2 separate regions of the Homo sapiens genome follow, and region 2 is linked to region 1. Evidence: fine-mapped expression QTL. A gene starts in region 1. The other region holds a variant in brackets. All regions are shown on one strand. Distances are between the middles of the regions.

Region 1 (5,377 bases):
CCTGGAAAGCCCAAAAACAGAAACTGGGGTGTACAGAGAAAGTGGAGCCAAGAATAAAGACGATGTGGACTGTGCTCCCCTTTGGGGATTTCTCTGCCAGAGACACTGAGCTGGGGAGAGGAGACATTTGATATTAGATTTTGAACGCGTGGAACATGCTTCTATTGACTGACATCTGAGGAGCAATCACAAGTGCGGAGCTCTCCCCAAGATTTCATCCTGGGGGGAGCAAGAACAAGCCCATGGAAAGGGGCAGCCCTGAAAAAGAATCAAATTGCTCTTGCTCGCTCACTCCCGAAAATCCAGCCTACCCATGAAAACACAATGGGAAGACAGCGCTTAACTGGAAGAACTGACTTTGCTACAGGGTCAGGGATGCCCCCTTGGGGGTGACGGTGGCGCTGAGCCGGAGGGTGCAGGGGTGAAGGAGGCGAAGACTGTGAGCGTGGGAGGCACGTCTGTCAGAGGAAGTGGGCTGGCCTCGCTTGGCACTCCCTCCCAGGGCCTCCACCTCAGGCCCACAGGCCACTCTTCGGGCACACACACCCTGGGCCGCCTTCACGGCTTCCAGAACACGGCCGCAGCTATCCCCTGACACCAGCTGTGCTTGATCTGTCGCTCTCGCCTCACCTCCCTGCTTCCTCGGCAATCCACTCCCCACCCTTCCTCTCCACTCAGTTACTCACTAGTATAATAGTATTTGAAAGGTACAAACAGGCCGGGTGCGGTGGCTCACGCCTGTAATCCCAGCACTTTGGGAGGCCGAGGCGGGTAGATCACTTAAGGTCAGGGGTTCTCGACCAGCCTGGCCAAAATGGCGAAACCTCGTTTCTACTAAAAATACAAAAATTAGCCGGGAGTAGTGGTGTGCACCTGTAGTCCCAGCTAGTCGGGAGGCTGAGGAAGGAGAATTGCTTGAACCCAGGAGGCGGAGGTTGCAGTGAGTGAGCCAAAATCGCGCCACTGCACTCCAGCCTGGACGACAGAACGAGACTCCGTCTCAAAAAAAAAAAAAGAAAAGAAAGATGCAAACAGCCACAGCCTCGCTTTAAACCCGCCCATCCCCTCGCATTTACAAAACCCCAGTTTCATACTTTGACACACAGTCATGGGGCTCCAGCCTGCCGCCTCGCAGCTCTTCCCTCCTGTGCTGGGCTCCAACCCCACTGCCGCGTCCTTCTTTCTAGACCTAGGAACACTGTGCAGGCCTGTCCGGTCCAGCGGACGGCAGGCGCTCGGTTCTCCACACCCCGCTCTTTAGCCTTCAGGCCTCGGTGCTAACGCCACCTCCTAAGGGGGACCCTCCGGCGCCACCCAGTGTGCCTCTCCCCCACAAGCCTCTTTGGTCTCTTAAAGCAGCCATGCTGCCCTCAGGCTGTAAGTTCTCCAAGGGCCGCGGACGGACGGGGCCACACAGGAGAGCTCACACACAAGTGAGTGAAAGAATAACCAAATTAGGGCCGGGCGCGGTGGCTCACGCCTGTTATCCCAGTACTTTGGGAGGCTGAGGCGGGTGGATCACCTGAGGTCAGGAGTTCGAGACCAGCCTGGCCAACATGGTGAAACCCCGTTTCTACTAAACATACAAATTAAGCTGGGAGTGGTAACGTACAAATTAAGCTGGGAGTGGTGGCGGGCGCCTGTAATCAGCTACTCGGAAGACTGAGGCAGGAGAATCGCTTGAACCCGGGAGGCGGAAGTTGGAAGTTGCAGTGAGCCGAGATTGCGCCATTGCACTCCAGCCTGGGCAACCAAAGCGAAACTCTGTCTCAAAAAAAAATAATAATAATAATAAGCAAATTGAGGAATGAGAGCAGCATCTCAAGGACACAGGTACTGTTTTGGAATTTATTTTAGACCTTTTTTGAAAGTAGGCGTGAACGTAATTGTTTCAGGCACTCTTAAGCGAAGCCAGCCGGCGCCCCGACAGCCGAGGGTGCGGGAGCTCCCCACGGCCCAGCCCCAGCCCCAGACCCCGCTGCCGCGCCTCGGCACGCCCCTGCGCCCCGCCTCCGCGCCTCGGCGCTACTCACGCCCCGCCCTCCGCTCCTCGTCACGCCCCATGTCGCGCCTCCGCGCGACTCACGCCTCTCCCAGTCTCTCGGCACGACCTCGTGCCCCGCCCTCGCCCCTGGCGCAATTTATGCCCCGCCCCGCGCCTCGCCACACCCCGTGCCCCGCCCCCGCTTCTCCGGGCAACTCCTGCTCCAACCCCGCGCCCGACTCATGGCCCTCCCCGCCCCTCGCCACGCCTCGCCTCGCCTTAGCGCTTCGCCCCGCCCCTGTCCTGCCTCTACTTCCGCCTCGGGGGAGCTGGGAGCCCGACGTTTCCGGGAGCGCCGCGTGGTTAGCGTCGGCGGCTTTTGGCATGGCGACTTTTTCTGGCCCGGCTGGGCCAATCCTGTCGCTTAATCCGCAGGAAGATGTCGAGTTTCAAAAGGAGGTGGCGCAGGTTCGCAAGCGCATAACCCAGGTGAGCAGGCACCCTGGCCCAGGCTGCGAGCGGGGGCGATGGACCGGGTCTAGAGGGTATCTGGGGTTGCACGGTTTCCGGCCCGGGCGCCCCTTGCCTTCGTGCTCGCCTTCATTACCTCCAGGGTCTCCCAAGTGGATTCGACCGAATCAGGGACCGACCTCTTAAGCTTGCAGGCCACGGTTTCCGAGACGAAAGGGTTTACGCTGTTCGGTAAATGATGGAGGGGTTTGGCCGCTGAGGCCCTGGAGCCTTCATGTGGAGGGTAACGGGGAAGTATTGGGGTGACAGAAGCAGTAGAAAGAACCAGCTGGAGGGAATAGGCTCCTATACCACAGGTTATCTCCGGGTTAGAGCTGTCACGCTTCCGCGTTTCCCCCAAAAATGGGAGCCCCAGACTTAACACATTCGGGAAGTTTGTATGCCGGGTTGGTGATCTGGGAGTTATTAAAATAGAGTATTTGCCAGGTTCCACTTGCTGACTAGGGCCCCTGACATCGCTTATACTTTCTGTGGTTTTTAGCATAAAATACACAGGAAAACTTAGAAGTTCCTGTTACAGAGGTAAGGCTATGATGACTGAGACGTTGAAAGGCTAATCTGTACCGTGAGAGTTAACAAGCGTATCGAAAATTTTTCGATGAAGTGCGAGTAAACAGTAATATGCATACCAAATTGAAGCCTACGTTTATGTAGAGTTCTCTGGGCAGAAGATCTAAAATGGCTTGTTCAAAGATGTCCTTGCTTATCCGTTGATTGACATAGTTATTGAGCTCTAATATTATACTGGGTGCTGGGATGCCAGGCTGGAAAGATAGTTGACTACTGCTTGACCATGGCCTTTGTGGGGAGAGAAACACTAAACAGCCAGTTCTTTAATTACTACTGTGGTAAGTGGAAATGCAGAATAGGTTCTTGGGCCGAGGGCTAGGGGTTTTGTTACAATGTGATTTTCTTATTTATATATTTAATTTACCTGGTCTTTACGTCTTTAGCGAAAAAAACAAGAACAACTTACTCCTGGAGTAGTCTATGTGCGCCACCTACCTAACCTACTTGACGAAACCCAGATCTTTTCATATTTCTCCCAGTTTGGCACTGTGACACGGTTCAGGCTGTCCAGAAGTAAAAGGGTAAGATTTTTGCAGTTGGATTTAATGTTTTGTTTTTCAAATGTGTATTATCCTTGACATTAAAGAGCACGTTCACGCATACATTATTGCTTATCAGATTTCATTCCAAAAAGGAGAGTGGAGGAGGTTTAGAATCTGAAACAGCTACAGGAGCAAAATCAGTATTATTGTAAAAGTTTGTTTTTTACATTTCTCCAAATCCTTACATTAAATTGACAGTCCTGGTAAATGAGCTTTAGTATGAGGCCCAGGTTTATACATTTTCTTGTGTTAGCCTTTGGTACAAGCATCCTTATAATAGCAAAGGTTTATATAGTGAATAGTTAAAGGTGAGGACTCTGGAGTTGGACTGCTGAGGTTTGGGGTCAGGCTCTACACCTTACTAGTTAGAGTGATATGACCTTACCATGTTTCAGTGTTGTGATCTGTTAAATATAAGTAAAACTTCCTGGGAGTATTTAGTCAAAGGTTAAATATAAAGTCTTTAGAGGATTGCTTGGTACACAATAAACACTATATAAGTATAATTACTATTTGTGTCATACCTGCCTTCTAATGAGAAAACGCTTTACATAGCTTGTTTCAATAGTGGAGGAGTGACCCACTTTCTTTTCTTTCCCCGCACATAAACTTTAATTGGTTGTAGCCATAGACACCTATTTGATTTAGCATGTGGGGGATAGGGTGCACATCCATCATCTGTTAGTTGTCGTAAAGATAGATTGTAGGTAGAATTGAGGTCCCTTTTGTACCCTTCCCAGTGCTCTTCAACTTCTTTAATTAGGGAATTAAATTCACAAATTCAGTTTTCTTTTTTTTGAGACTGAGGCTTGCACTGTCGCCCGGGCTGGAGTGCAGTGGTACAATCTCAGCTCACTGCAACCTCCGCTTCCCGGGTTCAAGCAATTCTCCTTGCGTCACCTTCCCAAGTAGCTGGGATTACAGGCGCCTGCCACCATGCCTGGCTAATTTTTTGTGTGTTTTACTAGAGACGGGGTTTCACTATGTTGGCCAGGCTGGTCTCGAACTCCTGACCTTGTGATCCTCCCGCCTCGGCCTCCCAAAGTGCTGAGATTACAGGCGTGAGCCAGTGCGCCCGGCCACAAATTCAGTTTTCATTGCTATATATAAGTTTTTACTATATATATATGTACTAGAATACATATGTGTACATATATAAATGTACATATGGTATTATTTTAAAATTATATTACTCTATCATTCTTCAGCTGAATTTTTGTATTCAATAATCTGAGCTTTATCCATGTAACTCTATTGCCTTTGTTATCATCATTGCTCATTACTTAGGTTACTAAAGTTTATCCACCCTCCTATTGAACATTAGGTTTTGTTTTGGGGGGCGATCTCGGCTCACTGCAACCTCTGCCTCCCAGATTCAAGTGATTCTCTTTCCTCACCCTCCTGAGTGGCTGGGATTACAGGTACCGGCCACTGCACCTGGCTAATTTTTGTATTTTTAGTAGAAACAGTGTTTCTACTAAACACTGTTTTGGCCAGGCTGGTCTCAAACTCCTGACCTCAGATGATCCGCCCACCTCGGCCTCCCAAGGTACTGGGATTACAAGCATGAGCGAGCCACTGTGCCCAGCCCGAACATTAGGTTTTTTAATATTTTTAACTCTTTAGATTAAGCTGCTAGGAACAATCTTTGTACAGGTATAGGCAGAATTTTCTAGAAGAGTATTTTGCAGACTTTGGCTCACAATAAGAGGTAAGTTTTTACCATCACAAAGAAGATGAGGGTTTTAAA
Region 2 (5,377 bases), 20 kb after region 1:
GCACTGGGACACACATGGAATGAAGAAGGCTAACAAGATTTCTATTCTTAAATGCTCAGCCTTGAAATAACTCAGAGCAATATAACGCTAGGTGGCAATAGATCCCAGGCACTTGAAATTTACAGTCAGCCTGGCACGGTGGCATGAACCTGAGGTCCCAGCTTCTGAGAAGGTTGAAGCAGGCAGAGAAAATCTACAGTTAACTCATTGCACTTAAAGAGATTGGCAAAAATCCAAAATTATTAAAGGGGTTTATACCCTAGTGTTAACTTTTTTTTTTTTGAGATGGAGTCTTGCTCTGTTGCCCAGGCTGGAGTGCAGTAGCGCAATCTCGGCTCACTGCAACCTCCATCTCCTGGGCTCAAGTAACTCTCCTACCTCAGCCTCCCGAGTAGCTGGGATTACAGGTGCCTGCCACCACGCCCAGCCAATTTTTGCCTTTTTAGTAGAGATGGGGCTTCACCACATTGGCCAGGCTGGTCTTGAACTCCTGACCTCAGGTGATCCACCCGCCTCGGCCTCCCAAAGTACTGTGATTACAGGCATGAGCCACTGTGCACGGCTGGAGTCTCACTCTTTTACCCAGGCTGGAGTGCACTGGTGCGATCTCGGTTCACTGCAGCTTCCGCCTCCCAGGTTCAAGCGATTCTCCTGCCTCAGCCTCCTGAATAGCTGAGATTACAAGCACCCGACACGACACCTGGCTAATTTTGTATTTTTAGTACAGACGGGGTTTCACCATGTTGGCCAGGCTGGTCTTGAACTCGTGACCTCAGGTGATCCACCTGCCTCGGCCTCCCAGAGTGCTGGGATTACAGGTGTGAGCCACTGCGCCCGGCCTCAGCCCACCAATGTCTACACTACTACAGGACAGAAACTACCACTATCAAATGCCCCTTAAGCAATTTGGTGCTTAGGAAACATCTTTCCAATAATTGACAATTGGTGAAAATATATTTACCAAATGGGTTTGGGTCACCAGCAATACAACATTCCAATGACATGAACCATGAAAATATTTACCTTATGAATTTGTGTATAAAGATGAAGAAATATAACTTCGATTAATTTTACAATATTTATGGGCAAATTATTTATTTATTTATTTATTTTATATAGAGATGGAGTCTCACTATATTGCCCAGGCTGGTCTCCAATTCCTGGCCTCAAGCAGTCCTCCCACCTTGACCTCCCAAAATGCTGGGATTATAGGCGTGAGCCGCTGTGCATGGCCAAAGCAGTTTTGGTTTGGTTTGGTTTGTATTGGTTTTTAGAGACAGGATCTCACTGTGTCGCCCTGGCTAGAGTGCAGTAGCATGATAATAGCTCACTGCAGCCTCGAACTCCTGGCCTAAGGTGATCCTCCCACCTTGGCCTCCTGAGTAGCTGAAACTATGGGAACTTGCATGAGGCCCGGCTAATTTTTTTTTTTTTCTTGAGACGGAGTTTTGCTCTTGTCACCCAGGGTGGAGTGCAATGGCATGGTCTCAGCTCACTGCAACCTCGGCCTCCCTGGTTCAAGTGATTCTCCTGCCTCAGCCTCCCAAGTAGATGGGATTACAGGCATCTGTAGCCACCACGCCCGGCTATTTTTTTGTATTTTTAGTAGAAATGGGGTTTCACCATGTTGACCAGGCTGGTCTCAAACTCCTGACTGACCTCAGGTGATCTGCCCACCTCCCAAAGTACTGGGATTATGGGCGTGAGCCACCGAGCCCAACCTTTTTTTTTTTTTTAGAAATGGGTCCTCAGTATGTTGCCCAGGCTGGTCTGGAATTCCTGGCCTCAAGTGATCCTCCTGCCTCAGTGTCCCAAATTGCTAGGATTACAGGCATGAGCCACTGCCCCTGGCCAGCAAATAATTATATATAATTATATACAGTGCATATAATGTTCTTAGGTATGTATTAAAATGATGGCTCTATGTAAAAAGAAAGTTTCGGCTGGGCGCAGTGGCTCACTCCTGTAATCCCAACACTTGGGAGGCCGAGGTGGATGGATCACTTGAGGTCAGGAGTTTAAGACCATCCTGGCCAACATGGTGAAACCCCGTCTCTACTAAAAATACAAAATTAGCTGGGTGTCCTGTCAGGTGCCTGTAATCCCAGCTGGGAGGCTGAGGCAAGAGAATCACTTGAACCTGGGAGCTGGAGATTGCAGTGAGCTGAGATTGCACCATTGCACTCCAACCTGTCAACAGAGTGAGACTCCGTCTCAAAAATAAATAAATAAATACATAAATACATAAATAAATAAATAAATAAATAAATAATTTTACACAAGAGAACTTTGCTTTAGTACCACAATCACTGTAAACACAATCTGTAGCCCTTGGTGTTCGGAGTATATTTCCTGTTTTCCAGTCACTGGGCTATTTTGGTTTTATTTCTTATTCATGAGGCCTGAACTATAAACACGAAGTAAACACTGGACTTAGAATTTGGAGCATTTTTCTACTTCAGCTAGTAAACCTCAACATTTTGGAAATATTTTTCAAGTTATATGTAGATGATCTATTTCTGTCCTTTTTCTCTCCAAAACAAATAAAGACAAAATAATAAAACAATTTGGCTAGTTAGGGTTTACCTGAGGTCAGGAGTTAATGTCCCGTCCCATTGATCCAATTAGAGAATGTTTCACATACCTGTCTACAAATTTATCCTGTTGCAGTAACCAATCTGTTTTATAATTAAGTAGCTTACCAATTATTGCAGTGGCCTGCTCTGCTTCAATTTCTATTAACAAAAAGAAAATGAACTTGTAGCAGTATCTCAGACATTACTTTTCTTTGCTGATAGGAGCCAATTTTGGAATCTCCCCTGTTATAAATAAATGCTGTCAACCCTACAAGGTCCAGGAAAAGAAATTCAGACATTTGATACTTGCCAAACGTAGTTTCCACAGCAAATGTGCCATAAGTAATGCTGTTGTTCTCTGTAGCTTCATTCACAGGTTCTATGATTTGGCTATTCAAAAGAGGAGTTTGCTGGTTTGGGGGAAAGTAGGACTCTTGCAAGAGGAACCTGGGGAAATATCCTAATTATCTGTCCCCAAAGAGAAAATGTTGAGATGTTTTTTGGCAGTGATGCAGGATACTCATTGGCAGCTTTTTTATTCTGAAGGACTGTGTTAATTTTTCTTCTATTTCTCCTTTAACACTTGGCTAGATGATAAATATTGTGGCTTTTCTCTAATTAACTTTTTTTTTTTTTTTTTT[A/TA]GACCAAGTTTTGCTCCTGTCGCCTGGTCTGGAGTGCAATGGTGCGATCTCGGCTCACTGCAACTTCCGCCTCCCTTGTTCAAGCAATTCTCCTGCCTCAGCCTCCCGAGTAGCTGAGATTACAGGCATGAGCCACCACAGGTGGCTAACTCTGTATTTTTAGTAGAGACGGGGTTTTTCCATGTTGTTCACGCTAGTCTCGAACTCCCGACCTCAGGTGATTTGCCCGCCTTGGCCTCTCAAAGTGTTGGGATTACAGGCATGAGCCACCGTGCCCGGACTTCTAATCAACTTTATAAAAAACAAAAACCGCTGCCAAGACATGCCTGGTATAATTTTAAAAACTGCACCCAGTAGTTTAGTAAATGCAAACCGTATAACTTCCCTACCTTGCAAATTTGTACTTAGCCAGCTATCTGATTTGATGTTAATGTAGAACCAGCCATAAAAAGGCATGTTATTCAGTCGGCTCCTTATTCTCCTGTGACTTTTTTTTTCCATTTAATTTATTATCTGAATAGGTAATACATGCAAATGGTATGAAAATTCACATGGCTTGAGAAGGTATCTCTGTCCCAGGCATTGCTCCTCTGCCCCAGTCCCCTGACCAGCTTGCTACTCAAGTGGACATGCCACCATCCTCCCCAGCTTCCCAGGCGGTATCCCCAGTGATGGGGACAAGGCTGGCACATCACATTTGTTTAATGAATGAATGCATTCAAAACATTCGTGAGTGCCCACCATGTGTCAAGCACTGGGGATCAGCAGTGAATAAAACAAAAATTCCTGACCCCACGAGGCTTATATTCAGCATTGCGAGACAAGCAATTACCAGATAAAGAAGTAAAGAAGGTCGGGTGCAGTGGCTCACACTTGTAATCCCAGCATTTTGGGAGGTCGAGGCGGGCAGATCACCGGATATCGGGAGTTCGAGACCAGCCTAGCCAACATGGTGAAACCCTGTCTGTACTAAAAATACAAAAAAATTAGCCAGGCATGGTGGTGGGAGCCTGTAATCCCATCTACTTGGGAGGCTGAGGCAGGAGAATTGCTTGAGCCCGGGAGGCGGAGGTTGTAGTGAGCAGAGATCATGCCATTGCACTCCAGTGTGGTTGACAGAGGGAGACTCCATCTAAAAAAAAAAAAAAAAAGAAGTAAAGAAATACATTATGTGGCACAAATGGTAAGTACTGTGGAGAAAAATAAAACAAGAAATGGGCTTAGGGACTTCTAGAGGTGGAAGTGGGACTGCCATTTTCAGTGGGTGATCAGGAAGGCCTCATACTGAACATGACATTTGAGTGATCTTTTTGAGGAATTCGGGGAGCCATGCAGAGATCTTGGAGGAAAAGCTTTTAAGGCAGAGGGAACAGCAAGTGCAAAGGCCCAGAGGCCAACCAGGCTGGGTTATTTTATTATTTTTACTTTTTTAGAGGTGGGGCTCACTCTGTCATCCAGGTGGGAGTGCAGTGGCATGATTATAGCTCACCGCAGCCTCGAATTCCTGGGCTCAAGCATTCCTCCTGCCTTGGCCTCTTGAGTAGCTGAGACTACAGGCGTGGTTATTTTAGAAACAGCAAGGGCACCAGTGTAGCTGGAACAGAGTTGCCAAGGGAGAAGTAGAGAAGGACAGTAAACAGATGCGTCAGGACCATGGAGGCCACTGTAAACCATTGGCTTTGACTCTGAGTGAGTCAGGAGCATCAGTGGGTTTACGGTTTAAGGGATCAATGCTCAATACTGCAGCACTGAGAATAGACTGTAAGGACACACAGGAGGTTGATGCTATTGCAGTAATCCAGATGGGCGTCAGTGGCGGGTTGGACCTGGTGATAGCAAGGAAAGTGAAAAGTGCTCACATTCTGGATAAATGTTGAAAGTAGGCTGGGCCTGGTGGCTCACCCCTGTAATCCCAGCATTTTGGGAGGTGGAGGTGGATGGATCACTTGTGCCCAGGAGTCTGAGACCAGCCTGGGCTACACAGAGAGACCCCATCTTTACAAAAAATAAAAAATTAGCTGGGCATGGTGGCACGTGCCTGTAGTCCCAGCTACTTGGGAGGGTAAGGCAGGAGGATAACTTGAGTCAAAGCTGCAGTGAGCTGAGATCATGCCACTGCACTCCAGCCTGGGTGACAGAGAGAGACTCCTCTGTCTCAAA

Evidence for each region. PIP is the estimated chance that this variant, and not a neighbour inherited with it, causes the effect. A credible set is the group of variants that fine-mapping cannot tell apart.
Region 2: its variant is the best candidate, but not a certain one, in a credible set for the expression of NIFK in whole blood (INTERVAL, PIP 0.88).

What each region holds. Positions count from the first base shown.
Region 1 is chr2:121,733,842-121,739,218 of GRCh38, reverse strand. NIFK (nucleolar protein interacting with the FHA domain of MKI67) reads left to right here and starts at 2,344. Exons shown (of 7, transcript NM_032390.5): 1 at 2,344-2,473; 2 at 3,469-3,606. The coding sequence starts at 2,369. RefSeq lists a silencer at 1,858-2,307 and an enhancer at 2,408-2,457.
Region 2 is chr2:121,713,632-121,719,008 of GRCh38, reverse strand. All of the region lies in intron 3 of NIFK-AS1 (NIFK antisense RNA 1), which reads right to left. Among named protein-coding and RNA genes, the nearest start is that of NIFK, 21 kb to the left of the region's middle. The variant A/TA (reference allele first, on the strand shown) is at 3,218.